Regions from separate parts of the Homo sapiens genome. Here all the other regions are linked to region 3. The links come from fine-mapping of genetic effects on gene expression. A gene starts in region 3. Each other region holds a variant in brackets. All regions are shown on one strand. Distances are between the middles of the regions.

Region 1 (10,234 bases), 19 kb after region 3:
TAACAAAATAATAAAAAAGAAAATTAAAAAATGAATTAATACATTTTCTTTTCTATTCATGGAGTTAGGACAACCAAATGAAAAGGGAAAAAAAGAGATATCTCAATAAAAACCAACATGGAAGAACAATCTTCCTTTCATATTCATCAGAAATAGATTCTGTGGGAGGCATGTTTTAATTCAGAACTCGGGCTGACGCAGCTGGACCCGGTGTAAATTCGCCTCACGGAGCAGGGAGTCCAGGCACTGTGTTCAAGCAGCGACGGAACCTCCGCAGGGTCTTCAAAGCAGCTCGATGGTCGACGACTGGACCCTGAAAAAAAGAAAGAAAGAAAAGCAGCTTAAGGTTCCGAGTAGCTCCTTGGGATATGATTTATGCTGAGGTGTTAAACCGGTTCTGATTGAAGACTTGGTTCCATTGGAGAAGTCTGTCTGTCCCTTGCCATTTCAAATTCACGCAGGTGTGAGCCACTGCGCCCAGCCTCTGAGAGGTTTTAGATGGCAAAAAGATGAAGCAATCTAAAGTTATACGATAGTTCCATAAATACGGGAGGTTTGAGCTTTTATTTTTTAGCTCATTGTCTTTCCCCAGAAGGATGTGCAATGAAAATGCTCCCCGTGCCACACCGGCTGAGGCTATCATCCTCCCGCCGCTGCATTTTAGTCCTTTGACCTTCCTAATCCCACGTCCCATCCCATCTTGATTGCTTTCTGATTTTTCTTGAGTCTACCTATCACTATATGACAGAGCGTCTTCTATCTACACCATGAAAATTTCTCCCTACAACGTGACTGTACTTTCATTCTCTTCCAAAGCCTTTGCCTGTTCTTGCCTTGCCACTTTTCTGAACCACGTGGTCCCTATTATGTTCTCAATTCTTATGCGGTCTGATTTCTTACTCATTTTTAGCCTTCTGATAAATTTTCATACCCTCTCGGACTTTTACTTATTTCCTGGCATTTTATGTAGCCAACAATTGCACTCATTTGTGAAGGTTGAAAGGAGGGGTGATGAGCGAGATGGCATCTGGCTGGCAGCCAGGCGGGCCCTCTCCCGGTGACAGCACCACAAACCTGGCTCCAGTCTTGCTCTTGGAGAAAACTTGGTCATGCCAGGACTCCTAGAGCTCATCTGTCTCAAGGAGACTGACTTGTGGGAACCACAATCCTAAGAAGTGTATCTAGAAACCAAAATTCTAACTTACTGATTGATAATAGTGGATATTTCTTTGCTTTAACTGGGATTCCTGTAGGCCTGATCCAGAGAATCCTCTCTTCAGATAGTGAGATGTGTGGGAAACCGAGTAATCAAAATATGGCTTGGTGAACATGAAATCAAAGAGTAGGCTGTGCGCGGTGGCACACGCCTGTAATCCCAGCACTTTGGAAGGCCAAGGCAGGCAGATCACGAGGTCAGGAGATCAAGACCATCCTGGTTAATGCAGTGAAACCCCGTCTCTACAAAAAATACAAAAATTAGCCGGGCGTGGTGGCGGGCGCCTGTAGTTCCAGCTACTCCGGAGGCTGAGGCAGGAGAATGGCATGAACTCGGGAGGTGGAGCTTGCAGTGAGCTGAGATCGGGCCACTGCACTCCAGCCTGGGCGACAAAGCGAGACTCCGTCAAAAAAAAAAAAAAAAAAATCAAAGAGTAAATGGGGTGATAGGGTTTTTTATTTTTTTTGGGGGGGTGGTTTTTTTTTTAGAGACAGACCCTCCCTTTGTCGCCCAGGCTGGAGTGCAGTGGCCGTTCACAGGCACTGTCATGCCTGTCATATAGTGTGCACCATAGCCTCACACTCCTGGGCTCAAACAATCCCCCTGCTTCAGCCTCTTGAGAAGCCGGGACTATTGGCATGCACCACTGTACATGGCTTGTGGGGATTGTTTTGAAGGTTTGGGAAGCCTGGTGACTCACAATTGCCTCTCAACAGAGAACAGTCTGTTCTAGATCAACACAGCCAACTCTGGGTCTCCGACTTCCTTTCCCGCACTACTGCCATTCTAAGCACAAGGTCATTCCACACAGGGCAGAGTACAACAGATTTGGGTTTTTGCTGATGAAGCGACAATCAGGCTTTTCTCCCTGGCATTGTTTCTGGGACACTGTGAGTGGTATATCGGGCGTTTCCATGCATCTCAACCACACGTTTATTCACAGTCTCTTGATTTAATCCCACGGATGGATAATTCTATCCATAATGGGTACAGACATCACTTGTTTTATTTTCAGAGGACAATCTTATGTCTTACTTTAATTTCTGGTGCTCACCTCCATGAATTACCATGTACCAGTATCACAGCCTTCTATAATTCTAATGGAACATTTAAGTAGCTATTGTTTTTCTAATATAATATACATGCTGCAAAATTATTGCAAGGAACGGGACAAGGAAAGCCCTGTGGCAGGAGAAAATTCTGCAGAGTTGTTTGCTGAGGCCATGATTTCATTCCTTGAATACTGGAAGGATAATGTGGTATTGGGAAAGAGCACAGTTTGCTTGGAATTCTGTCTCCACACTCATTACCTGTGAGGCGATGAGTGACGTCGTTGACCTTTTCTTTTTCTTTTCTTTTTTGAGACAGGATCTTACCCTGTCACTCAGACTGGAATGCAGTGGCGTGATCTTGGCTGACTGCAACCTCTACTTCCCAGGCTCAAGCAACTCTCCTGCCTCGGCCTCCTGAGTAGCTGGGATTACAGGCACTCACCACCACGCCTGGCTAATTTTTGTATTTTTAGTAGAGATGAGGTTTCACCATGTTGGCCAGGCTGGTCTTGAACTCCTGACCTCAAATGGTCCACCCTCCTCAGCCTCCCAAAGTGCTGGGATTACAGGTGTGAGCCACCACGCCTGGCTGTAGTTGACCTTTTCTAAGCCAATGCCACTCCAAGTGTGGATCCCAAACTGTCTGTACGAGGCTGCGAGGAGATAAGGGGCTTGCACCAGAAAATAAAATGAGCCACGCCACTCAACACACTACTTAACTTGGCTGACTTTTTTTCCAAAGTCAGACTTTCTCAATGAAGGAAACAGTACCTTGATTTACATTCTGTCCCAGGTTCCTTGGCAATAAAATTGGAAAATAATACTAACTTCACAGGGCTGCCACTGTAGAGATTAAATTAATGGTGTTGCATGAAAAGTGTCTGGCACGATGTGTGTACAATAAATAGTTGTTTTAGTGTGTCTGAGTTGCACAATTTAGCACTAAGAGCAAACTTTTCAAGCAAGTTTATAACCAGCAACAGGCTCATAGAAGACAAGAGAGGTAAGAGGCTAAGGGCTTTATACCCTGCCATTCGCCTCATTGCTCTGAAGACCCTAAGCCTTGCCTCTCCCTAAGCATCTATTCCCTCATCTGTAAACTGGAATAATAATAGCGCCCACCTCACAGAGCTGTTCTGAGAACGAAATTACATACCCTATGTACAATACCTAGAATACTGCCAGATATTTAGTAGGTGTCTGATGAATATTAGTTTCCTTTTTTGCACTTCAACAGCATTGAGGATGCTTTCAAGAATATTTGCATGATATTTAAGGAAACAGCTATCACATGCAAAACTTTTCTAATGCTAACAGCAACTCCAGAACTCCAGAAAAGAATTAAAGATTGGAGTAATGAAACAGAAGGACCCTGCTGGTAAAAATGAAAACAGGAATACCATATGATGGTATTTTCTTTTAAAATTAATTCTGTGAGAGGCAGGTGGAATTTTTAGCTCTGGTTCAATCCATTTATGTTGGATCTAGTGAGACTAGTATCTCCTCCTAAAGAGCTCTATCTCTTGGGCCGGGCCTGGTAGCTCACAGTTGTAACCCCCACACTTTGGGCGGCCGAGGCAGGCAGCTCATCTGAGGTCAGGAGTTCAAGATCAGCCTGGCCAACATGGCGAAACCCCGTCTCTACTAAAAAGACAAAAACTAGTCGGGCATGTTGGCACATGCCTTTAGTCCCAGCTACTTGGGGGGCTGAGGCAGGAGACTCGCTTGAACCCAGGAGGTGGAGGTTGCAGTGAGCCGAGATCATGCTACTGCACTCCAGCCTAGGCGACAGAGCAAGACCCTGTCTCAAAAAAAAAGAAAAAAAAAAAAAGAGCTCTATCTCTTGAACCCTGGGGTTTCCTTCCTGACTGAGCTGCATGTTCTTATTCTTACAGGTTCCCAACAGTGACTGATCTTTCCACCTCATCAAAGGTCCCTTACTTCCCCACGCCTTCTTGTTATTGAGTTTGTGGTCAGTGTGACTTTTTGAGATATAATTTTTTTTACTTTGCAAACAAATGGAAAAGACTAATTACTTTTCTTTTATATAGTATAACCATCAATTACATACTAACAATTTTGTATGTGTCTTTAAATATAATCGTATAAAAGTGACATTCTGTAGCAGGAAAATGTATACAGAATTAATTCGGCTTCAGATTTACGGCTTAAGTAATATTTTTATTATCTTATGCCACAGAAGAGATATTTGTGTCTTTATTTTTAAAGTGGCTATGTGCCTCATTTTACGAAATAAAATCTTATTGTACTAAAGTCATATACTAGGCTTCAGTTACTGAAAGCCAAAGGAGGTCATGAGTTCCTGATGTAACTCACCAAAGAGCCTACGGATTAAAAGGAGAATATGTTTCCCCACTTTTATCTGGTTGCCTCCTGCTTTTGCTTAGTTTCATAATTCGTGACCTTTTGGGAGAAAGACAAAATTGGTGTGTGCTTATGACCAAGGACTATGCTTGAATATACAACTAGGAAGGCCTCTCAAATGGTTTAAAAATAATTACTGAAAAGATTCAGACTTGCCATTCTTTTTGATTATATATAATCCTTTAAAAATAATCCACCCAGGCCAGGGGTGGTGGCTCACGCCTCTAATCCCAGCACTTTGGGAGGCCAAGGTGGGCGGATCACCTGAGGTCAGGAGTTTGAGACCAGCCTGGCTAACACGGTGAAATTTCATTTCTACTAAAAACATAAAAAATTAGCTGGGCGTGGTGGCACGCTCCTGTATTCCCAGCTACTCGGGAGGCTGAGGCAGGAGAATTTCTTGAACCCGGGAGGCAGAGGTTGCAGTGAGTAGAGATTTCGTCACTGCACTCCAGCCAGGGCAACAGAGCGAAACTCCGTTTCAAAAAAAAAAAAAAAAAAAAAAAAAAATCCACCCAATATAGAAACAAATGACAATTACAGGGATTTGTAAAGCTATTAACATTTCATTGCTCTCCTGGCTCTGTCTCTTCCTAGTTGAGCAGCTTTGGACAAGGTACTTGACCACTCTGTCTCGGTTTCTTCATTTGTAAAATGCAAAATGACAGTAGTTTCATCCTCCTAGGATGACTGTGAAAATTAAATGAGTAAACTTGTAAAACAGTAGCTATTCTTATGACCACTCCAAATTGAAAAATATCAAACAGGTATACCCTGTTCCTCCAAAGTCATGTCAACTTGTTTACTATCAAACAATATACAGTTAGTAATAAAACAAAGGTATGACTTCATGTCCCTTTTGTTACAGAATGAGTGCAATTCATATTGTAGGAATATTGTGCTTTTTACTCAGTTTAAGTGTTGTCATATAGTTGGTCTGAAATGGAGGCACCGAGACACCCTCAGTATGTGTCATTATGTCATCATTATAAAAATCACCCTAGCCCTTGGGCCTGGACTCTTGGTCTCTGTTATGCGCTGAACTGTGTTCCCCAAAAAGGTATGCTGAAGTCCTACCCCCAGTATCTCAGAATGTGACCTTTTTCGGAAATAGAGGCACTGCAAGTGCAATTAATTAAGTCGTCATGCTGGAATAGGGTGGGTCCTCATACAATCAGAAGGGAAAACAGACACGGAGGGGAGATGGCCACGTCGAAGGTGGTGGAGGTTGGAGTGATGTTGCCACAAGCCAAGGAATGTCTGGGGCTACCAGAAGCTGGGCGAGGCAAGGAAGGATTCTTCCCTAGAGGCCTTGGCAGAAGTCAGGCCCTGCTGACACCTTGATTTCAGACTTTGAGCCTCCAGAACTGAGATAATACATTTCCGATGTTTGAAGGCACACCATTTGTGGTGTTTTGTTATAGCAGCCTTAGGAGACTATTACACGCTCCTAGACCAGAAACTAGAACAAAGAGGCAAGTCTCAGGTCAACCACAGAGGCCCTGGTCCTTAGCTACAACGATCCAAATTGTCAGGAAAGCCAGCTTCTGTGTGGAAGATCCTTCCTGTGGGAACTGCTGAGACCTGGTAAGCCAGGTGCTGGCACAGCTGGGCCAGCCCTTTGGGACTAGAAAGGGATAGAATGAGCCCCATAGGCTTTGTCAAAGAGGTTTCCCTGACCACCCTACCTAGAGTGCACCTTCTCCCCCCGCTCTTTGTCCTCTTACCTTGCTTTTTCTTCACAGCACCAGTTCATCTTTGTTTACTGTCTGGCTTCCCAAGTACCACTATATATTTTTGAGACAGGGTCTCGCTCTGTCGCACATGCTGGAGGGCAGTGGTGTGATCTTGGCTCATGGCAGCTTTGACCTCCCAGGCTCAGGCGATTCTCCCACCTCAGCCTCCTGAGTAGCTGGGACTACAGTCGTATGTTACCACATCTGGCTAATTTTTGTATTTTTAGTAGAGACAGGATTTTGCCTTGTTGCCCAGGCTGGTCTCGAACTCCTAGCCTCAAGTGATCTGCCTGCCTCGGCCTCCCAAAGTGCTGGGATTATAGGCGTGAGCCACTGTGTCCAGCCCCCAAGTACCACTTCTACCACCAGAGTGGAAGCTCTATGAAAACAGAGACCACAGATGATAATTTCAAATTTTCTTTAGTGTCCTTTGTATTTT[G/A]CACAGGTGATTTAAACATTTTATTTATTTTGTGTCTCCTTGCAGTTTGCAAGTTGTTTTCCTCTTTAATCAGAAAAAGGATATTAAAAACTGTAAGCTTTCTATAAAGTTTTGTTCACAGTTCATATCTCCAGCACATATTAGGTATTCAATGAATATTTGTTGAATGAATGACTAGAATAAATAATGTTATGCTTCTTCTTCTTCTTTTTTTTTTTTTTTGAGGCAGGGTCTCACTCTGTTGCCCAGGCTGGAGTACAGTGGTGCAATCACAGCTTACTGCAAGCTTGAACTCCTGGGCTCAAGTGATCCTCCCTCCTCAGCCTCCTGGGTAGCTGGGACTACAGGTGCATTCCAGCATGCTGGTGTTATGCTTCCTTTATTCTCCATATTTAATTCATCTTTTATTCCTCAACAGTATTCAGCAACTTCTTTTCAGAAACTATTGATTTTTGGCCAGGTGCAGTGGCTCACATCTGTAATCCCAGCACTTTGGGAGGCTGAGGCAGGAGGATCACTTAAGCCCAGGAGTTCAAGAGTTCAAGACCAGCCTGGGCAACATAGTGAGGCCTTATCTGTATAAATTTTGTTTTAAAAAAGAAATTATTGCCAGTCTCAGCCACAATGAAGGAAACCTAGGAAAGGATGTGACCCTACTTGAGCCACAATTTAGAAGGGCATGTCCACCCCACAATCCTCTGAGGTTCCCAATGGCTGGACTGTAATACTTCCCTAGGCTTTCGGTGTAATACTAAGTTTGTTCTACTCTACTAGATATTTTCTTGTCATACGCTCAACTTCAGGCCTCCTTTGGAGGGAGGCTTAAGGGAACATTGGCAGATTCCAACGTATTTAAATAATTAACATGACATTCCTAGCTATTGTTTTATTCATTGATGAATTTTGGAATGTCATTACAAATTGTAAATTTGGACCTAGATGCTGATTGCTTATTTTCAGAAAACCTACAGAATAACCTCAGTAATAAAAACAAAGTGGGCCACGCCTGTAATCCCAGCACTTTAGGAGGCCGAGGCGGGCGGATCACGAGGTTAGGCGACCTAGACCATCCTGGCTAACATGGTGATACCCCGCATCTAGTAAAAAAAATATAAAAAATTAGCCAGGCGTGGTGGCACACGCCTGTAGTCCCAGCTACTCGGGAGGCTGAGGCAGGAGAATCGTTTGAACCCGGGAGGCAGAGGTTGCAGTGAGCCAAGATCGCACCACTGCACTCTAGCTCTGGGTGACAGAGCAAGACTCCATCTCAAAAACAAACAAAAAAACAACAAAGAAATGGGCCCTGCGTAGTGGCTCACGCCTGTATCCCAGCACTTTGAGAGGACAAGGTAGGTGGGTCACCTGAGGTCAGGAGTTCAAAACCAGCCTGACCAACGTGGTAAAAATACAAAATTACTACTAAAAATACAAAAATTAGCTGGGCATAGTGGCAGGCACCTGTAATCCCAGCTACTCAGGAGGCTGAGGCAGGAGAATCACTTGAACCCAGGAGATGAAGGTTGCAGTGAGCTGAGATCACGCCACTGCACTCCAGCCTGGGCGACAGAGTGAGACTGTCTCAAAACAAACAAACAAACAAGCAAAAAAAAAAAAAAAAAGAAACCCGAAAAACAAAGAAGCCTAAAAACTCAGGGTAAGTGTAGAGCTTGGGACTCTGCTAAGACTCAACAGTGCCCTAGAGGATAGCCATTCAGTATTATCATAAATCCTCAAGTCTTCCATTTTGCCATCCTTAAAACAACTGTTTCTGAGCACAGGGACACTGGCACATGAATGAACGAATGACTTCAGTTTGTCCTCAACTGTCTTGCCAATCAGGCCAACCTTAAAGCTACAGAAGGAGATTGTCCTGAATTTCCCTGAGAGCCAACGGCACTAACAACTGTTAAACCAGAAGAATAAAAACCCAAATATTGGCACACACTCCCCAAACATGTTGTCCAGCAGTTGAAAGCCAAGGACAGGAACAGGCAATGCCTGCCAGCTGTTCCAGGGGAAAGGGTCCAAACTGATCTTAGACTCAGCTTTGCTTGAGTTCAGCCCGAATTGCTGGAGAAGATCCACCAACCTTCCAGTGGCCTAAGATTGATCCAAAACTGGCAGTCACCGTTCCCCAAAGGTGATACTATTATTTCAGCTCTCACAAGAAAACCCATGTAACTGGAAGATGAAGAACAAAAATCAGGATAACACAAGATTCTGATTGTCTTGTCTAATGTACAGGATTTGGAATCAGGCTTCTATATATGGAAACCATGTGTGTCTAGAGCCTTAAGTTTCATGCAAATTCCTGTAAAATGATCACTGATCAGATCATCTGTAAAAATGTGGAATCTGGATTAGACGATCTCTCAGGCCACTTCCAGCTCGAAACTCTGACTTGCTATCTCTATATTCTTATAGGGTTTTCTTGCTCACTAAGTTTTTAGGAAAATAATAACTGAGAAAATAAAAATTTAATACAGTCATACAGTCATCTCAGGATACATTCTGAGAAAATCATTGAGTGTACTTACACAAATCTATATAGTATAGCCTACTATACACCTAGGCTATCAGGTAAGGCCTTGATATGGTTTGGCTGTGTCCCCACCCAAATCTCATCCAAATCTCATCTTGAATTGTAGCTCCCATAATCCCCACGTGTCATGGGAGGGACCTGGTGGGAGGTAATTGAATCATAGGGGGAGTTTTTCCCATACAGTTCTCACGACAGTGAATAAGTCTGCACGTGCTTTCTTGCCTGCCACCATGAAGATGTGCCTTTGCTCCTCCTTCACCTTCCACCACGATTGTGAGGCCTCCCCAGCCATGTGAAACTGGATCCATTAAACCTCTTTTTCTTTAAAAATTACCCAGTCTTGGGTATTTCTTCATAGCAGTATGAAAATAGACCAATACAGGCCTATTGCTCCTAGGCTACAAACCTGTACAGCATGTTACTGTACTGAATAGTGTAAGGAAATCATCACACAATGGTAAGTATTTGTGATAGAAATTTTTCAGCTCTATTGTAACCTTAGGGGATCACTGTCGTCTATGAGGTCCATCATTGACTGAAACTGTTATGCAGTGCTTAACTGTATTATGTGACAAAATGTGTATAAGTAATTTTATTTAATTAAGAGTAGAAGCTCTCCCGCAGTGTTCTCATATACTCTAAACTCTAAAATTATCATTCTACTCAGTATTGCTGATCTCTTCATTGAGCTTGTAAACAAACACCTACACAGAACAGAACTAATTAATTTTAATCTAAATCCATTTTCTTTTGTACAAAGGAGGCTTTTTCCCCAAGATTTGTTTCAATCCTTTAGCCTAAAATGATAACGCCCTATATTTACCTAGCGATGTTAACTTTTCAAAGTCCGTTCTTTTCTACCAT
Region 2 (10,234 bases), 32 kb after region 3:
GTCATAAAAATGAAGAAACCTCCATTTATTTTTCCTTCTCTCTTGGGATCCTTACCCTTAGAACTCAGCCATCACATAGTAAGGAGACTCAGGCCACAGACAGGTCTAGTGAGGAATTCTGGCTGACATCCTCAGCTAGTCCCCAGCCATGAGCAAGCATCAGCTGCTGTCATGATCCTGAGTGAATGATCCCTCAGAGTCCAGGCGCCAGCCTTTGAGTCTTCCAGCTGATATCCCTGACAATGTGGGTCAGAAACCAGCCATCCATTCTACGCCTGGTGTGAATTTCTAACCATGGAAACGGTGCGAGATAATACACGATGTAACGCATGATTGTTGTACTTTAAGCCACCCCATTTTCGGGTGATTTGTTATGCAGCCATAGTAACACGCGGGGACAGTGAAGTCCTCTAAGGTGAAAAGTGTGTTTGCTATTGGTTTAAGAAAGCGAGTGCCACTCACGGGGAAGAAGAAGTGTCTTGTAAATTATCACTAATCTCCTCAGATGTCAATGAATCAGATACTGTAAATTATCCTTACTCTCCTCAGATGTCAGCGAATCAGATACTGTGTCTTGGCCAGGTGCGTTGGCTCACACCTGTAATCCCAGCACTTTGGGAGGCCAAGGTGGGATTGCTTGAGGCCAGGAGTTTCAGACAAGCCTGGGCAACATAGCAAGACCCTGTCTCTACAACAAAATTTAAAAATTAGCCGGGCATGTACCTGTAGTCCCAGCTACTTGGGAGACTGAGGCAGGAGGATTGCTTGAGCCCAGGAGTTTGAAACTGCAGTGAGGTATGATCTCACCACAGGACTCACTCCAGCCTGGATGACAGAGTGAGACCCTGTCTCAAAAAAAAAAAAAAAAAAAAAAAAAAAAATATATATATATATATATATATATATATATATATATATATAAAATCTCTTTTCTGAAAGAAGCATTTAAATGTTGAAAACACATTATCTGCTTATTCTAGAACCCAAAATGGGCATTTTTTTTGTTTTTGTTTTGAGACAGAGTCTCACTCTGTTGCCCAGGCTGGAGTGCAGTGGCACAGTCTCGGCTCACTGCAACCTCCACCTCCTGGGTTCAAGCAATTCTCCTGCCTCAGCCTCCCAAGTAGCTGGGACTACAGGCGAGCGCCACCATACCCGGCTAATTTTTGTATTTTTAGTAGAGATGGGGGTTTCACTATCTTGGCCAGGCTGGTCTCGAACTCCTGACCTCGTGATCCACCAGCCTCAGCCTCCCAAAGTGCTGGGATTACAGGTGTGAGCCACCGTGCCTGGCCCAAAATGGGCATATTTTTAGAACCTAGACTATTGAGCTTGTCACTTTTTCTTACAATGTGCCACATTCTGCACCAATGATGCAGGAAATTAACAGCTAGATGTTCTTAGTTCTCCCTCTCCGTGGCGGTTCTGAAGATAGGCGGTGAAAGTGGACTGTTCCTCAGAAGCAAAAACTCTCCAGTGTTTCTGATCCATTAGTTCCGTAGCAATGTATGAGTTTTCATAACTATGGTTATGTATTTTGGTAAGCTGCTATCTTCATGCAACAGTCAATTTCACTGAACTTCATTTCCTCTAAGTATGTTAGATTACATATTTCACAATGTATTATTTGAAACAAACCAATCTCATTGAAAAACCCAGTTGAGAAGCTTCATGAATAATTTAACTGCTTGCTTTTCCTCTCAGATTTCACACATTTTGCCACGTCATTATTTAAGGAAACTTTCTCATATTGTAATACTTCCTCTTTTCTATTCAAAGAAATTGTAAACATATCAGCAAAAAGGGAACCACAGTTTTATCTGGAACACTAATATATTTAGAGTGAACAACACTGCCACCCTAAGATTTCCCAGTAACCTAGATGCATTTTGCTGTACTCAAGCAGGCTGATATGATTGCAGTTTGGGGAAAAATTTATATTATATAGAGTGTGGTTTCTTTTGGAGTGGTTTGCTAGTTTCTCCAATGCTGTTTGTCATATATGTAAAAGTAAAAACAGTTGGTATTGTGTAGCAGTATAGAATACTACCTATGTTCTCTCTCTATATATATGCCCCAGAGAACCATTTGTTTCCATTCAGAGTGATAAGGTTATACAAGACCTACTTGGCCATGCAAGACAAGTTCTTTTCTTCATTTCTGTCTACAAATTCAGATCATTTCTCCATAGTTCAAGATAGCTATCTATCCTTCAAAGAATGGTACAGGCCAGGCATGGTGGCTCACACCTGTAATCCCAGCACTTTGGGAGGCTGAGGCCGGTGGATCCCTTGAGCCCAGGAGTTCGCGAGCAGCCTGGGCAACATGGCAAAACTCTAGAAAAATATAAAAATTAGCTGGGCATGGTGGTGCTCACCTGCAGTCCCAGCTACTTGGGAGTCTGAGGTGGGAGGATCACCTGAGCCTGGACTGGTTGAGATCACGCCACTGCACTCCAGCCTGGGTGGAGACCCTGTCTCAAACAAACAAACAAAAAACAAAAAACAACACAAAGAATGGTAGAGAGAGCTGTAAAAGTAAAGAATCTATGAAGGTCTTTTGAGCTCAAAAATGTTTCTATTTCAATTATCATTTAAAACATGTTCACTATGAAGGTGGGCTTCCTGACTTGATTCACTCATTGAAATTCATAGTAGGGTCAGTTGATGACCAAGAAACTTAGCTATTTCAAAATCATGGGGTATAAGTCTTAACATCAAATAATGCATATGTAACTCAAACTTCTCATCTTTAGCATCATCAGTTCAAAAATTATATACGTTACTCCACTAATTAGGCATAACACTTCATTAGAAGTTATATATGCATTCAAAGCCACCTCCAGCTGCACCAGCCTATAATGAGCTGTTTATTTGTTCATGTGACAATCTTATATTGCTACCTATTATTTCATGTGCACGTAGATACTCGATAAAGTCTTTTAAAATGAATGAATGCAAATCTTCTGCCTCCCACAGTGCCTGTTCTTAAATCCTAAGCCCCATTATTGCTACTCCCTGCCACCTCCATTCCATAAACTGCAGGGCCATTGTTCTATAAGCTGCTTGAGTTTAAGAGTGTTGCTTTCACAGCTCTCTTCATACGTACAGGAAGGCTCTGCTTCTCCTTCCCAAGACACTCAGGGAATCTTTCCAGGATGCTTCCCATTCACTCTACTGAATTCACCTACTCCCTCTTGCTACCTCTGCTTATAGTATTTTGCTTCAGACCCAATTGTCACCCACTGGTCCCTGAGATAGGCAAAAGATGCTTTAGACTATTTTCTTGGGTGCTGCCCTCGGGCTCCACATCCTGCAGCCTGCCTCATTCCCATTCTGGAAGGGAGTTCAGATAGCTTGAACTTAGTAGTAAGGGTGATCTGACTCCTGTGATCATTGACTTCAGTGTTCACCAGGCTGCTTAGCAAAGGGCCCTCTTCATCACTCCCTTCATCATTCAGTTAAGGGAAAAGATCTCAAGAACGCAGAGGCATAGAGAGGCACCTCAATGGCACTGTGCTTTGCAGACATATGAGTTGTCATGGCAGACGGTGGTGGTGACGATCACTGCTGCCTGTATCTTTATAACCTTAGAGAAATCTGAACTTCTCTTTAAGGAAATCCATGTGTAATTT[C/T]CTTCTCTGGTTGCTTCATAGGGCAGTCAAGGCGGCAGGAAGCCACAAAGCCCTGGCTAACAAATTAAAGCAATGTTTATATGCTAGGCTTGGTCTTTCCTAATGAAGGAGAGGCTGCTGACTAGTGGGGCTCAGGTCAGACTTCCTGTCACCAGCTGGGCTTGCACACGTAGGGAACACTGACGAATGGCTTGGGCTTTGTGCCCCATCAGCACTGGGCCCTCATGGCCCAGTCACAGGAATATGGCTAGCAAGGCAGCACGACTGCTTTACACCAGAGTTCAGGGAAAGGCATCACATCCCTCAAGCCACCCAAGCAAGAAGTCTGGTGGTCGTCCTAGCCTCTTGCTCTGCCTCATACCTCACAGACGATTTGTTTACCACGTCATAAAGATTTTACTTCTTAAATACCTCTCAAATCCATCCCCTTTCCTCTCAATGGCTCTGGCCACTGACTTAATTCAGGTCCTCATCATTGATCATCAGAGTTACTAAAATGAGAAGCAAGTGGCTTCCGTGGGGCTGGCCTCTTCACCTCTAAGCTGATGTTTTCTGCAAGAGTGATCTTTCTAAATTACTAACATCAGATTTCATCACCTCTCTGACCCCCTTCTGCCAGCTTGAAACCTTTCTTTTTTTTTTTTTTGAGACGGAGTCTCGCTCTGTCACCCAGGCTGCAGTACAGTGGCACGATCTCAGCTCACTGCAAGCTCCACCTCCCAGGTTCACGCCATTCTCCTGCCTCAGCCTCCCGAGTAGTTGGGACTACAGGCACCCGCCACCACGCCCGGCTAATTTTTTTTTGTATTTTTAGTAGATAACCGGGATGGTCTTGATCTCCTGACCTTGTGATCCGCCCATCTGGGCCTCCCAAAGTGCTGGGATTACAGGTGTGAGCCACCATGCCCGGCCTTGAAACCTTTCAACGATTCCTCGCTGCCTTTAGGCTGAAGTCCAAACACCTTAGCAGGCAAACCGGCTCCTGTCTCTTGCCACCTTTCTCCATGCCCCTCATTCCAGCTATATTCATCTAATGTCCATTTCCGATCATGTCACACTCCTTCTGCCTTTAGTGCTTTTCCATGCTATTCCCTCATCCGGAAGTGGCCATCCTTCACTAACTAGCTCACCCCTGCCACTGCTTCTGCATTCATTTATTCATGACACGTTTACTAAAGGTGACTGTGTGCCAGCCACTAATCTAGGTGCTGGGCATCAGTGAATCAAACAGACAAAACTGGCCATGTGCAGCGGCTCATGCCTGTAATCCTAGTACTTTGGGAGGCTGAGGCAGGAGGATCACTTGAGGCTAGGAACTGGAGACCAGCCTAGGTAACAGAGTGAAACTCTGATTTTACAGAACATAATAAAAAGAAAAATAAAAAACAGGCAAACTTCCTGACTTGTAGAGCTTCCCTTCCAGTGGTGGTGATGGTGGTGGGAGGGGAGGAACAATGAAGCGAACAAACAAGTAAATTCTACGCTAGATGACAAGACAAGTGCTATGGAGAATAATCCGGCAGGGAAGAAGGCTGGCAGTGCCAGAGCAGGTGCGGGGGTTATTGCGATTTTAAATGGAGTTGTGTATAATAGGAAAAACCAACTGCTTTCTCTTCTACAGTCATACTTGTCAGAGAATACTTCCTCTCCGGTTGCTAAAATGTGTGTGGAGTTTTCCCCACACCGACCAATTCTCCAACACCAGCTGGGTGATCTACAATTTAACTCAATCCTGACACTATGTACCTGGAGTTAGAGTCAGATTGCACAGCTTAAGGACTTAGTCCCACAAGACTGCCCCTACTTTAGATGCCAGTCACAAGCCCCAGGCTGTGACCCGTGTTCCTGACTGACAGGCTGTACACTGGAGTTCCCATGGTGCCCTCCTTGGATTTGATAATTTGCTAGGATGGATCACAGAACTCAGAAAACCACTTTATTTATGTTCACCTGTTTATTAGGAAGGATATTACAAAGGATACAGATGGACAGCCAGATGGGAGAGATGCATTGGGCCAGGTATGGGGGAGGGGGCAGGTGGCTTCCACGCCCCCTCCAGGGTGCATCGCCCTTCCAGCACCTCCGCGTGTTCAGCAGCCCGGAAGCTCTCCAAACCCCACAGTTCAGGGATTTTCATGGAGGCTTCATCACATAGGCACCACCAATTACTAACTCAGGTTTCCGCCCCTCTCCCCTTCATGGAGGATGGGGAGCTGAGCTGAAAGTTCCAAGTTTCTAATCATGGCTTGGTCTTTCTGGTGACCAGCCCTATCCAGGAGCCCACCAAGAGGTGCCCCATGAGAAAAAAAGACGCTACTATTACCCAGGAAATTCCAAGTGATCAGGATCTCTGTGTCAGGAACCAAGATCAAAGACCAAATATCAGAACAAAAGATTCTCCTAACGCCCCTATTACTCAGGAAATTAAAGGGTTTTAGGAACTCTATGCCAAAGGACTGGAGACAAATATTGCTATGGTTTGAATGTTTGTCTCTTCAGAAACTCATGTTGAAACTTAATCCCTGGCTGGGCCCAGTGGCCCATGCCTATAATCCCAGCAATTTGGGAGGCCAAGGCAGGTGGATCACTTGAGGTCAGGAGTTCAAGACCAGCCTGGCCAGCATGGTGAGACCTCATCTCTACTAAAAATACAAAAATTATCCGGGCATGGTGGCATATGCCTGTAATCCCAGCTACTCAGGAAGCTGAGGCATGAGAATCACTTGCACCCAGGAGGTGGAGGTTGCAGTGAGCTGAGATCGCGGCACTGCACTCCAGCCTGTGCAACAGAGTGAGTGAGACTCTGTCTCAAAAAAAAATTTAATAAAAAATAAATTAGAAAATAAAAACTTAATCCCCAATGTGGCAGTACTGCAAGATGGGGGAACTTTATGGGGTGATTGGGTCGTGGGGCTCTGCCCTCATGAATGGATTAGTCTGCTCATGGATTAATCCATGGGTTAACAGATTAATGGTTTATTATGGGAATCAGACTGATGACTCTACAAGAAGAGCAAGACAGGCCGGGCACGGTGGTTCACGCCTGTAATCCCAGCACTTTGGGAGGCCCAGGTGGGCAGATCACGAGGTCAGAAGGTGGAGACCATCCTGGCTAACCCCGTCTCTACTAAAACTATAAAACATTAGCTGGGCATGGTGGCGGGCGCCTGTAGTCCCAGCTACTCGGGAGTCTGAGGCAGGAGAATGGCGTGAACCCGGGAGGCGGAGCTTGCAGTGAGCCGAGATAGCGCCACTGCACTCCAGCCTGGGTGACAGAGAGAGACTCTGTCTCAAAAAAAAAAAAAAAAAGAAGAGCAAGACAGACCTGAGCTAGCACGCTCGGCCCATTTGCCATGTGATTTCCTGCGCTGCTCAAGATTCTGCAGAGTTGGCAGGGCATGGTGGCTCACGCCTGTAATCCCAGTACTTTGGAAGGCTGAGGCAGGCCGATCGCCTAAGGTCAGGAGTTCAAGACCAGCCTGGCCAACACGGCAAAACCCTGTCTCTACTAAAAATACAAAAATTAGCCAGGTGTGGTCGTGTGTGCCTGTAGCCCCAGCTACTCAGGAGGCTGATGCAGGAGAATCGCTTGAACCCGGGAGGTGGAGGGTGCAATGAGCTGAGATCGTTCCACCGTACGACCATACGAGCTGAGATCGTGCCACCAGCCTGGGTGACAGTGCAAAAAACGAAGAAAGAAAAAGAAAAAAAATTCTGCAGAGTCCCCACAGCAAGAAGGCCCTCACCAGGAGCAGCCTCTCAACCTTGGACTTCTCAGCCTCCATAACTGTAAAAAATAAATTCCTTTTTGTTTATATACCTTGTTTCAGGTATTCTGTTATAAGCAAGAGAAAACTAACCCAGAAAATTAAAAATATATATATATTTTATATATATATCTTTTTATAAATCACAATATCACAGGTAGTCAGGGAGGCCTCAGTGAGAGGGGACATTTGAGCAAAGACTTGAAGAAAGTGAAGGAGCAAGTCATGTGAGTATTTGGAGGAAAATATTAAGAGAAAAGTTAAGAATAAGGGCAAAGAGCCTGGGGCAGAGGCATACTTCAACTGTGAAGGAAGTAGAAAAAGGCCAGATGGCCTGAGGACAGTGAGCAAGTGAGAGAATAAAAGTCAAAGTGAGGTCGGGCGCGGTGGCTCACACCTATAATCTCAGCACATTGGGAGGCCAAGGCAGGCGCATCACTTGAGGTCAGGAGTTTGAGACCAACAAGGCCAACATGTTGAAACCCCATCTCTACTAAATATTAGCTGGACATGGTGGCAGGTACCTGTAATCCCAGCTACTTGGGAGGCTGAGGCAGGAGAATTACTTGAACCTCAGAGGTGGAGGTTGCAGTAGGCCAAGATTGCGCCATTGCACTCCAGCCTGGGCGACAGAGCAAGACTCCATCCCCCCACCAAAAAAAATTCAAAGTGAGACGGCACAGTGAGTCACACCTGTAATCCCAGCACTTTGGGAGGCTGAGGCAGGAGGATCACTTGTGTCCAGGAGTTCAAGACCAGCCTGGGCAACATAGCATGAACCTGTCTCTACAATTCTTTTTTCTAATCAGCTAGGTATGGGGGCACATTCTTGTAGTACTAGCTACCCAAGAGGCTAAGGTGAGAGATCGCTTGACCCTGGGAGTTCAAGTTTACAGTGAGCTATGATCACATCACTGCACTCTAGCCTGGGCAAAGAGCAAGACCCTATTTTTAAAGGAAAAAAAAGTCAAAATGAGAAAGTTGTGGGGAGGTCCTGTGAGCCACTGCAAGGTTTTACTCTAAGTGAGATAGTGAGATGAGGAGTTATTGGAGGGTTTGAACAGAGGAGTTACATATTAAATAAATCATATTAAATGTTACTTTTTTTGTTGTTTTTATTTTTTGAGACAGAGTTTCACTCTTGTCGCCCAGGCTGGAGTGCAATGGCGCAATCTTGGCTCACCACAACCTCCGCCTCCCAGGTTCAAGGAATTCTCCTGCCTCAGCCTCCCCAGCAGCTGGGATTACAGGCATGCGCCACCATGCCTGGCTAATTTTGTATTTTTAGTAGAGACGGGGTTTCTCCATGTTGGTCAGGCTGGTCTCGAACTCCCGACCTCAGGTGATCCGCCTGCCTCGGCCTCCCAAAGTGCTGGGATTACAGGTGTGAGCCACCACACCCAGCCTAAACGTTACATATTAAAAGGATTATATATTAAAAAGCCACTGGATTGAGAATAGATTGTAAGAAGACAAGGGTAGAGGCAAGGACAGCTGTTAGAAGACTGTTGCAAAACCCCAAGCTAGAAATGCTGGTGGCCTGGACAAGGGTGGGAGCAGTAGAGGTGGCAAGACATAGTTGAATTCTGGATATAGCTTAAAGGTCAGATAGGATCTCCTAATGGCATGAATGGGGGATAAAAGAGAAAAAGGGGTGACAAGGATGATGTCAAGGTTTTGGGTCTGAGAAACTCTAAGGATGAAGTTGCCACTAGCTGAGATAGGGGAAGACTTGCAGGGGCAGGTTTCAGGGGAAGATCAGGAGTTTTGACCTGGCCTTGTGTATTAATCCATTCTTGCATTGCTATAAAGAACCACCTGAGACTGGGTAATTTATAAAGAAAAGAGATTTAATCAACTCACGGTTCTGTGGGCTTTACATGCTTCTGCTTCTGGGGAGGCCTCAGGAAACTTAGAATCATGGCAGAAGGCAAAGGGGAAGCAAGCACATCTTCACATGGCTGGCAGGAGAGAGAGAGCAAAGGGGGAAATGCTATACACTTTTAAACAATCAAGTATCATGAGAACTCACTCATCATGAGAACAGCAAAGGAGAAGTCTGCCCCCATGATCCAATTACCTTCCCACCAGGACCCTCCTCCAACATTGAAGATTACAATTTGACATGAAATTTGGGTGGGGACACAGAGCCAAACCATATCATTCCACTCCTGGCCCATCCCAAATATCATGTCCTCACATTTCAAAACACAATTATGCTTTCCAAACAGTCTCCCAAAGTCTTAACTCATTTCAGCATTAACTCAAAAGTCCAAGTCCAAAGTTTCATCTGAGATAAGGCAGTCCCTTCTGCCTATGAGCCTGTAAAATCAAAAGCAAGTTAGTTACATCTAGGATACAATAAGGGTACAGGCATTGGGTAAATGTTCCTGTTCCAAAAGGGAGACATTGGCCAAAACAAAGGGGTTACAGGCCCCATGCAAGTCCGAAACCCAGCAGGGCAGTCATTAAATCTTAGAGCTCCAAAATAATATCCTTTGATTCCATGTCTAACATCCAGGCCACACTGATGCAAGGGGTAGGCTCCCAAGGTCTTGGACAGCTCTGCTTCTGGCGGCTCTGCAGGGCTTAGTGCCCCATGGCCGCTCTCACAGGCTGGTGTTGAGTGCCTGTGGCTTTTCCAAGCACACAGTGCAAACTGTTGATGGAGCTACCATTCTGGGGTGTGGAGGACAGTGGCCCTCTTCTCACAGCTCCACTTGGCAGTGCCCCAGTGGAGACTCTTTGTGGGGACTTCAACCCCATATTTCCCCTCCACAGTACCCTAGTAGAGGTTCTCCACAAGGGCTCCGCCCCTGAAGCAAATTTCTGC
Region 3 (10,234 bases):
TTAAGACTTTTCCAATTTAAGCACACTACAGAGAACATCGAAACACTCTATTATTAGAAATAGGGGCCAGGCGCGGTGGCTCACACCTGTCATCCCAGCACTTCGGAAAGCTGAGGTGGGTGGATCACCTGAGGTCAGGAGTTCAAGACCAGCCTCACTAACAGGGTGAAATCCCGTCTCTACTAAATACAGAAAACTAACCAGGTGTGGTGGCGCATGCCTATAATCCCAGCTACTTTGGGAGGCTGAGGCAGGAGAATCACTTGAACCCGGGAGGCGGAGATTGCAGTCAGCCGACACTGCACCATTGCACTCCAGCCTGGGCAACAAGAGCGAAACCCCGTTTCAAAACAAACAAGTCTCAAAACAAACAAAAGTGTATGGCCGGGCCGCGGTGGCACACGCCTGTAATCCCAGCACTTTGGGAGGCTAAGGCGGGCGGATCACGAGGTCAGGAGATCGAGACCATCCTGGCTAACAAGGTGAAATCCCGTCTCTACTAAAAATACAGAAACAAAATTAGCAGGGCGTGGTGACGGGAACCTGTAGTCCCAGGTACCCGGGAGGCTGAGGAGGGAGAATGGCGTGAACCCGGGAGGCGGAGCTTGCAGTGAGCCAAGATCGTGCCACTGCACTCCAGCCTGGGCGACAGAGCGAGACTCTGTCTCAAAAAAAAAAAAAGAAAGAAATAGGCCAGGCACTGTGGCTCACACCTGTCATCTCAGCACTTTGGGAGGCCAAGGCGGGAGAATGGCTGAGGTCAGGAGTTGGTTAGAGACCAGTCTGGCCAACATGGTGAAACCCCGTCTCTACTAAAAACAAGAAATGTAGCAGCCAGCCACGGCTGCATACGCTTGTCATCCCGACTACTTGGGAAGCTGAGGCATGGGAATCGCTTGAACCGGGGAGGTGGAGGTAGCTGTGAGCTGAGATGGTGCCACTACACTCCAGCCTCAGCAACACAGCCTGACTGTCTCAAAAAGAAAAACTATATTATTAGAAAGAATATCTCATATAAAGGTATATGAAAACACAAACACACATGAAACACCTACGTTCAGTACTGTACAAAATTAAACAGAATCCCAGCCTTTTATGACATGCCAGCACTGGCAACCTATAAAAAGTAATTTACTAAGTTTCAATTCCTTTCCAAAGGCTAGATAGGCAGAGCAGGAACGTTCTACTGGCTTTGAATGAAGATACTGTTCATGGCCGGGCGCGGTAGCTCAAGCCTGTAATCCCAGTACTTTGGGAGGCCGAGGCTGGCGGATCACAAGGTCAAGAGACCCAGACCATCCTGGCCAACATGGTGAAACCCTGTCTCTACTAAAAATACAAAAATTAGCTGGGCGCGGTAGCGCGCTGTAGTCCCAGCTACTTGGGAGGCTGAGGCAGGAGAATCGCTTGAACCTGGGAGGCAGAGGTTGCAATAAGCCAAGATCACGCCACTGCACTCCAGCCTGGCGACAGAGCAAGACTCCGCCACCAAAAAATTAATTAATTAATTAAATTAAATACTGTTCGGCCGGGTGCGGTGGCTCACGCCTGTAATCCCAAGGCAGGTGGATCACGAGGTCAGGAGATCGAGACCATCCTGGCTAACACGGTGAAACCCCATCTCTACTAAAAATACAAAAAAAATTAGCCGGGCGTGGTGGTGGGCACCTGTAGTCCCAGCTACTGGGGAGGCTGAGGCAGGAGAATGGCATGAACCCGGGAGGCGGACCTGGCAGTGAGCCGACATCGCGCCACTGCACTGTAGCCTGGGCGACAGAGCGAGACTCCGTCTCAAAAAAAAAAAAAAAAAAAAATTACTTCTGCTTGCCTGTCTTCTCCACTACACTATGAATTCCTAAAAGGCAAAAATCACCAAATCTTATTCCTGGGCATTCGACAAGGTCACAGTGCCTTTGGACTAACAGGTCCTAAATGTAATAAATTAGGATAACAGGATACTGTATAGCAGGATATTATTAGGATACTAGCAGAGACAAGAAATAGGCATGTTAAACAATAAAATCAATTTTTTAAAACTCAAGATTGGGCCCAATTATTTTTAAGTATACACTGGTTCAGTATTAAACAAAACAAAATTCTTAAAATTACTAGGCCAGATACTAAAAACAGAATACTATAAATCAGTTTTCTGTGTGAAATACACAAATTCCTGCAGTAACTGAATTCCACCACAGAAAATGGAACTCTAATCTAGTTCAACAATTATATTGCAACATGTACCAAGCAAACATTTCTATAAACCACTTTGTATGCAATGGTACTTTTTTTCTTTTTGACTAATAAAAAGACGAATTGTCATTTAAATGTAAACTACCAGTGGACCCAGAAACTTCAAGCCTTTCAGAAATTTCTTACCAACTTAATTCAAACATTTTAAAATCACAAACTACTTTTAAAACACCGTGTTAGTAAAGGAATGCAAGGTCAAGAAGATAACCTTCTTCCTGACTTTAAGGAGTTTACAATCTAGAAAAGGAGATATATAGTCAATTATCAGAGTATCAGACACAAAGAATAAATGCTACTACAATAGAGGTACATATGCTGTGAGATCCCAGTAAAAAAGTGGGATAAGGGGAAATAAAAGAGTACAGTGGGCTGGGTGCGGTGGTTCACGCCTGTAATCCCAGCACTTTGGTTGGCCGAGGTGGGCAGATCGTCTGAGCTCAGGAGTTCGAGATCACCCTGGGCAACATGGTGAAACCCCGTCTCTACTAAAATACAAAAAATTAGCCGAGTGTGGCGGCGCGTTCCTGTAGTCCCAGCTACTCGGGAGGCTGAGGCACAAGAATCGCTTGAGCCCTGGAGGCGAAGGTTGCAGTGAGCCAAGATCACGCCATTGCACTCTAGCTTGGGCTACAAAGTGAGACTCCGTCTCAAAAAAATAAAAATAAAAATAAAAATACAGTGAAAACATTGGATTTAGAAGGAGGACCTGAAATTTGAGTATTTAAAAAAGGAAAGATGGCACTCCAGGATGAAGGACATGAGCAAAGAAACATCAGAGTGGAAACATCTCTTCCACAGAATGAGTCCAGGATTGATGACGATTCTGGAATAGCAAAAGCATAAAATTTGTTAACATATGAGGATAGACAGTAGCATATACTTATTGTAGAGACCTTTGAGCTAACCGAGGGAAGTTACACTTCATTCTGGGAAGAAAGAAAAGTCCCTGAAAATATTAAAGGTAGGCGTGAAAGACACAACGTTTTGCTTCCTCTTAAAATATATCTGTACCAGCCGGGCGCGGTGGCTCACGCCTGTAATCCCAGCACTCTGGGAGGCCAAGGCGGGCGGATCACGAGGTCAGAAGTTCAAGACCAGCCTGGCCAATATGGTGAAACCCCGTCTCTACTAAAAATACAAAAATTAGCCGGGTGTGGTGGCGTGCGCCTGTAATCCCAGCTACTCAGGAGGCTGAGGCAGGAGAATCGCTTGAACCTGGGAGACGGAGGTTGCAGTGAGCCAAGATTGTGCCACTGCACTCCAGCCTGGGCAACAGAGCAAGACCCCGTCTCAAAAAAAAAAAAAGATGTATCTGTACCTATGAAAAAGGAGAAGCATAAAAAGAAAACAAAAGTCTCAAAACTGATGTATAACGATCTTTTTTATTTTATTTTAGCAACAGGTTCTCGCTCTGTCACACAGGCTGAGTGCAGCGGCGCGATCCTAGCTCACTGCAACCCTCGAACTCTCAGTTTGAGGCTGAAGCTCAAACGTTCCCCCCGCCTCAGCCTCCCAAGTAGGCGCGCGACTAGAGGCGCCACCAATTCCCGGTTGACATGATGTTTTAAAAATTTTTTCAAGATAATTATTGTTGTTTGCAAACTCGTGACAGCTTGGTAGTATGTTACTGAAGGATCAGGATCCAAAAATCACAGTACAGAGACAACGTAGACTTCCCATAGCGCTTGGCACACTTAAAACATCCCTTCAAGTATTAACCTTAACTGGGCTTGTCATCCCAGGTCAAATCCTCCGAAATAAGTAAACCACTCTAATTTCTTCTCTCCTAAGAGACTCTATCAGTGAAAGCTCACAAAAAAACAGTTTAAAAAAAAAAAAGGGGGGGTCTCGCCATGTTGCTCAGGCTGGTCTCAAACTCCTGGGTTCAAGCGATCCTCCCGCCTCAGCCTCTCAAAGTGCTGGGATTACAGACAGGAGCCACTGCGCCCAGCCAAAGACAGTTCTTAAAATCTACAGGTTCTTTAGGATATTCTGAGAATAAATATCGTTTAGGATTTCCCCAAAGGATTTACGTTTTGTTCTATGAAGAACCCAGTTCTTCCAAAAATTTCTACAACTGACGATTTGGAAATAAAAATAACGCTCATCTCATAAAACTTTGCACACAGATAGTATGAACCTCGTAAGCTTTGAGAACAAAATTTCCCCATCTCTCAAAACAAAACACCCAAACCAAAACAGTCAACCAGTGGCAAAAGAAACCGTCCTGTTTCCCAGGTAGGAAAAAGGAAGGCAAAGCACCCCAAGATGTGCTTTTATTTTAAATCTCCTTGATCTGACCAATCGGGTGAGCTGGAACCTCACGGCTGAGCCCCGAGTCCAACTTCTTCCCCGCCAGGACTACTCACTGTGGCCAGGCCCAAGCGCATGTGGAACACACGCCAACACAGGACAGGCTCAGCACGCCGGCCGCTTCCCTCGGGGAAAGGCCCGCCAACGAGTCCATCGCGTGGGAGAACAGTGGGAAAGGGTCGCGGCCCCGGCCGTCCGTAAAGGGACCCGACTGCCGGCGCAGGACGCGAACCACCAGCGCCGCTCCGCCGCCATGTGCCGCCGCTCCTCCGGTCCGAGATTATGTAACGAAGCCCGGCGCCCGCGAGCCTGCCGTACCCGCCACCGCCACCGCTCGCCCCCTCGAGCCCCATCCGTTGGCCCCGCGCACGCCCGGCCTAGGCCCGGCGCTCGCGGGGCAGAAGCCCCGCCGCCGCCGCCGCCGCCGCCGCCGCCGCCGCGGGTCCAGGCCGCGCGACCCGCCCTCCGCCGCGCGGGCCCAACCCCCTCCCTCCCTTCCCCCTACCTGAACGGGGCGGGTGAGCGCGCCGCCGCGGGCCGAGTCCACCGGGTCGCCAGGCCAGGCGCGAGCTCCTCCCGTGCGGGTCCGTCACAGCATCTCCCGGGAGACGTGGCCGCCACGGGCCGGGCTCACACCCCTCCGCCCGGCTGAAGCCGCTCCTCTGCGCTCCGGCCGCCGCCTGCGACCTCCCCGGCCACCTCAGAGCCACACGCCCCCGAGAGTGCCTTCGCGGGCTGTAGGCCTGCAGACCGCTCAGCGGCTAAAACGCAGTCGCTGCTCCCGCCGCGCTTCTGGGTCCTTCCCCTTGCAACGCTGCCTGCTCGCCTCGGACAGCGCCGGCCCCGCTCTGCGCATTACCCTGCGCCGACAAAACCGAGTTCCACACGCCCCGGAAGGGAGGGAGCAGAGGAAAGGGCGGAGAGGGAGGGGAGAACCGGCGGGAGATCGCGGCTGCAGGGACCAGAGTTCTCGCGATGGTTCCGCGCTCTAGCGCCGGCTCCGCGGGAATTTTCAAACTCTCGGTGAAAGAAGGAGGTGGGAGGGAAAGGGAGGAAAGAGAAGCAGGGCCTGGAAGGGCGGATCATTTACAAAAAAATCGGGTCTCTCCGCCTCCGAGGAGCTGGTGGGGAGAAAGACTACGAGTCCCACAGTGCCTTGCGCGTGAAGCCGCCCTGGCGGCCCCGGCGGCGCGCCCCGTGCGCAGTTGGGAGTGGTAGTCTTCGCTGGGGGTCGCGCCGGGCTCTGCCAGCCGCCTGCTGCGATTGCAGGCGGACTCTCTTGTCACGTAATCGTGTGGCCCTGCCAGCTGGGGGCCGAGTGATAATCTTTCTCCCATAATTGGCAGCTTGCATTCTGTATTTTCTGTTCTGTGCTCCCACTTTTCTTTTTTTCTTTTTCTTTTTTTTGGAGACGGAGTCTTGCTCTGTTGCCCAGGCTGGAGTGCTGTGGCACGATCTTGGCTCACTACAACCTGTGCTCCCGCTTTTCATGCCAAAGGTGGGCTCCCAGACTTCTGGGGAAACGCTTTTTCCACGGTGCTGTTTTTTCTAGCATCCTCCTGTGCTTTCATGGCCAAAAATGCTCGCGCAGCCTAGCCTAATCTTTTTAGTCAAAATTTTACCCCAAATCACTGTTATCTTTTTGGTCACCGCGGGTTTTCATTGTGGAATTTCTTATTTCTTGTTAGTATCTTCCTTTGAAGCAAATCCCAGCGCCAAACATGTTTCAAACAGATAGGGAACGTATCCTTAATACTAAGTAGTAAGTAAAAGGATTATAACATGAGGTAGAGTAGGGATTTTAAGAAGATGCTCTTTTATCAGGAAAGTTTCTACTTTTCTGTTACCTTTCATATGTGCTTTTTAAATTTTTTTATTTTTGAGACAGTGTCTCGCTCTGTCGCCCAGGCTGGAGTGCAGTGGTGTAATCAAGGCTCACAGCAGCCTCGAACTCGTGGGCTCAAATGATCCTCCTACCTCAGCCCTCCAAGTAGCTGGGACTATGGGCATGGACCACCATGCGCCACTACGTCCCATTAATTTTTTTATTTTATTTATTTATTTATTTATTTATTTATTTGAGACGGAGTCTCGCTCTGTCACCAGGCTGGAGTGCAGTGGCACAATCTCGGCTCACTGCAACCTCCGCCTCCCAGGTTCAAGAGGTTCTCCTGTCTCAGCCTCCAGAGTAGCTAGGACTACAGGTGTGCGCCACCATGCCCAGCTGATTTTTGTATTTTTAGTAGAGACAGGGTTTCACCATGTTGGCCAGGATGGTCTTGAACTCTTGACCTCGTGATCCACCTGCCTCAGCCTCCCAAAGTGCTGGGATTATAGGCGTGAGCCACCGCGCCCGGCCTTATTTTTTATTTTTTGTAGAGACTGTCTCACTGTGTTACCCAAGCTGGTCTCTACTCCTGGGCTCAAGAGATCCTCCTGCCTCAGCCTCTCAACGTGCTGGGATTACAGACATGAGCCACCATGCCCAGCCTATTTTTATTTTTGTAGAGACTGTGTCTTGCTGTGTTGCTCAGACTGGAGTGCATGGCTATTCGCAGGCACTATGGCCTCATCAGTGCCACTGCTGCCTCCAACTTCTAGGCTCAAGCTATCCTCCCACCTCAGCTTCCCGAGCAGCTGGGACTACAGGCATGGATATCATGCCTGGCCCATATTCTTTCAGAGATAATGCTGCCTTTTGGAAATGTAATTTTCTTTTTTCTGTAATTTTTGTTTCTTTAGTAACAGCAACCTCCATACATATCATGTTTGTTTGCACAAGGTATTGGACCAAGTTGTGATAGAAACAGTTAAAAAGAGTACTGCTTTTGCAGTAGGAGGTTTGGGGTTCGTTGTCTTAATTATTTTAAAGAGATCTCTTCAAACAGAAACCACCCTCTGTTGGATGTGCTGATTTATGTCACATGCTCCATATTCTACACTTTCTTTGGCACTGTTTTATGCCCAGTTCATGAGTACTGTACCTCTCGATAGTCAGAAGACATGAATTATCAACTCAGGTGTGCTGCTAGTGAGCTGTGTGACATTAGGAAAATCAAGTGACCTCTCTGGGCTTCAGTTATCAGATGTGTAGAGCAAGGGATTGACTGATTCATTAGACAGATATTTATTAACTTTGCTCTAAGAGCCCTTCCAGTTGTGAAATTCAAAAATCTATTTTAATTGCACATATTATCCAGATTGACTGTCTACATAGTCTTTCAGATTTTAATCCTTTCCATCATTATCAACAGAATGATTTCTGTATCATTGTCTATATTTTTATTATTTACTTATTTTGAGACAGGGTCTTGCTCTGTTACCCAGGCTGGAGTGCAGTGGCACAATCTCGGGTCACTGTAGCCTTGACCTCCTGGGCTCAAGCAGTTCTCCTACCTCAGCCTCCCAAATAGCTGGGACTACAGGTGCATACCACCACTCCTAGCTAATTTTTGCATTTTTTGTAGAGACAGGGTTTCTTCATGTTACCCAGGCTGGTCTCAAACTTGTGGGCTCAAGTGATCTGCTGGACTCAGCCTTCCAAAGTGCTGGAATTACAGACGTGAGACACTGGCCTGGCCTGTGTAATTGTCCATAATCTAGACCAACTCTACCTGTCGTATTTTATTTCCCTATATAGTTCCTGAGCTTTGTTTTGTTTTGTTTTGTTTTTTAACTCTCCAAACCTGTTTTCTCTTTCAGTGTCTCCCAGCCTCTTCTCTCCCTGAGTAAATCTTAACATCCCTCAGGGGCCAGCTCAAGCCTCTTTCCTCTTCCCAATCTTTTCTTCAGCTTCAGCCCACATGAATCACTAAAAACTTGAGCGAAATATGCTGTCTGAATTGTTTCATGTCTGTTTCCCTTTTTGCCTCTGACTCTCTCCATCCACCCACCATCTCCATCTCCCAGCTGCACTGGGAGCACAGACTGTATCTTTTTAAAATGCTTCCCCCATAACTGCTAGTTTTTTATTTTAGTTGCTTTGCAAACTGAATTTCCAATTTAAAGCTCTCATTCAATCCTTTTTCTTCTTTCTTTCAGACATTTAACTAAGCAAATACCAGATTATTTTAATTGGTTTCAAGAGATGTTAATAAGTGTTAAATGAAGAAAAATCTAGATTTGGTAATCAAATGAGTTTGGGGGAAAAGCTGATTAAATAAAAATAAAAATGTATTTTCTGTAAGACTTCACTGGCTTTAATATGCTTGGCATTCCCCAGAGTTGCTTGACCATGGCATCCATTTGCACTTGTGTAACATCTTGCCTTATTAGTGCTTCACAGAACAGACTCTGGTAAACACGGCTTCAAAGCTTTCTCTCACTGGAAGAAGCATGTTGTGGTGAAAATAATGAAATCATTTGGAGCCAGACAAACTTGGGTTTACTGCGTTTCACTACTTTCTAGCAACATGACTTTTATGAAATTACTTCACTCTCTGAGCCTGTTTTCTCAGCTAAGAAGAAAAGATAATGTCACTTTCTTTGCAGAACTGTTGTAAAGATGAAAGGGAAGTACATGCCTTCCTTAGAACCTCATTCCGTTTTCACCTATATGGTCCTAAGTTATGTTGGTAAAAGGCCTAGAAATGGATAATAACTGGTACAAATCCTCATGCTTCCATCTGGAATATTTGATTCAAGAGACAATATTTTTAAAAATTTTATTTATTGATTGATTTTTGAGATGGAGTCTCACGCTATCACCCAGGCTGGAGTGCAGTGCAGTGGCATGATCTCAGCTCGCTGCAGCCTCCGACTCCCGGGTTCAAGCGATTCTCCTGCTTTAGCCTCCCATTGGGATTACAGGCCTGTGCCACCACTCCTGGCTAATTTTTGTATTTCTAGTAGAGATGGGGTTTCACCATGTTGCCCAGGCTGGTCTTGAACTACCGACCTCAAGTGATCCACCCGCCGTGGGCTCCCAAAGTGCTGGGATTACAGCATGAGCCACTGCACCCGGCCAAGAGGCAATATTTTAATACCATTCCAGCATCCTGGGAGTGACTAGCGGCCATCTGATTTCAGGGAATTCAGGACTTCATTGAAGCGTTCTGAGTTAGATCTCCAATTGTTTTGCAAAGTAACAGGGAAAGCCTTATTACTTTAACAACAACAAAAATGGAGCTTATCTGTCTCGAGCAGAGAAAACTGTCTTTGTCCTAACAGGTACATGTTCATCATTTTTGTGCAGTTGATTGGTTATAGCAAGCAGTGCCCACCCTTGATTTCTCCAATTGACAATAAACTAGGTGAATGAACAATCATATTTTTCCTGTTCCCCACTCTATGTCCAGTGATGGCACAATGGCCAGAGCGTAAATACTAAAATCATTGTCTAGTGACTGAGCAAATAATAATTCATCATTCAAAGCAAAATATGCAAAAAAAAAAAACAAAGCAAAATATGCCATATTAGATTATAAGGAACCTTAGAGATATTCTAGGCCAAACACCTTATTTTATAGGTGGTGAAATGAATTGTCAAATGATTTGCTACAAATTTTTTGGGATGGATTTTTTGTTTTGTTTAAAAAATAAGCCAAGTGCAGTGGCTCACAGCTGTAATCCCAGCACTTTGGGAGGATGAGGCAGGCAGATCACCTGAGCCCAGGAGTTCCAGACCAGCCTGGGCAATATGGCAAAAACCCATCTGTACAAAAAATACAAA

Which allele goes with the higher level. Alleles are on the strand shown, and positions count from the first base shown. SD is a standard deviation of normalised expression in the study named. Not every link is listed here.
For the expression in whole blood of the gene that starts at base 5,439 in region 3, C is the high allele of the variant in region 2 and T is the other (small effect, 0.40 SD a copy in GTEx).

Evidence for each region. PIP is the estimated chance that this variant, and not a neighbour inherited with it, causes the effect.
Region 1: its variant is fine-mapped to the expression of AHCTF1 in whole blood (INTERVAL, PIP 0.99).
Region 2: its variant is fine-mapped to the expression of AHCTF1 in whole blood (TOPMed, PIP above 0.99).

Annotation. Positions count from the first base shown.
Region 1 is chr1:246,945,515-246,955,748 of GRCh38, forward strand. It overlaps ZNF670-ZNF695 (ZNF670-ZNF695 readthrough (NMD candidate)), which reads right to left. Exons shown (of 7, transcript NR_037894.2): 7 at 32-313. It also overlaps a transcript of ZNF695 not described here. Among named protein-coding and RNA genes, the nearest start is that of AHCTF1, 19 kb to the left of the region's middle. The variant G/A (reference allele first, on the strand shown) is at 6,829.
Region 2 is chr1:246,958,431-246,968,664 of GRCh38, forward strand. It overlaps ZNF670-ZNF695 (ZNF670-ZNF695 readthrough (NMD candidate)), which reads right to left. Exons shown (of 7, transcript NR_037894.2): 6 at 9,265-9,362. It also overlaps a transcript of ZNF695 not described here. Among named protein-coding and RNA genes, the nearest start is that of AHCTF1, 32 kb to the left of the region's middle. RefSeq lists enhancers at 3,893-4,052, 4,103-4,152. The variant C/T (reference allele first, on the strand shown) is at 3,635.
Region 3 is chr1:246,926,510-246,936,743 of GRCh38, forward strand. It overlaps AHCTF1 (AT-hook containing transcription factor 1), which reads right to left and starts at 5,439. Exons shown (of 36, transcript NM_001323342.2): 1 at 5,069-5,439. RefSeq lists enhancers at 4,562-4,651, 5,772-5,821 and a silencer at 4,992-5,091.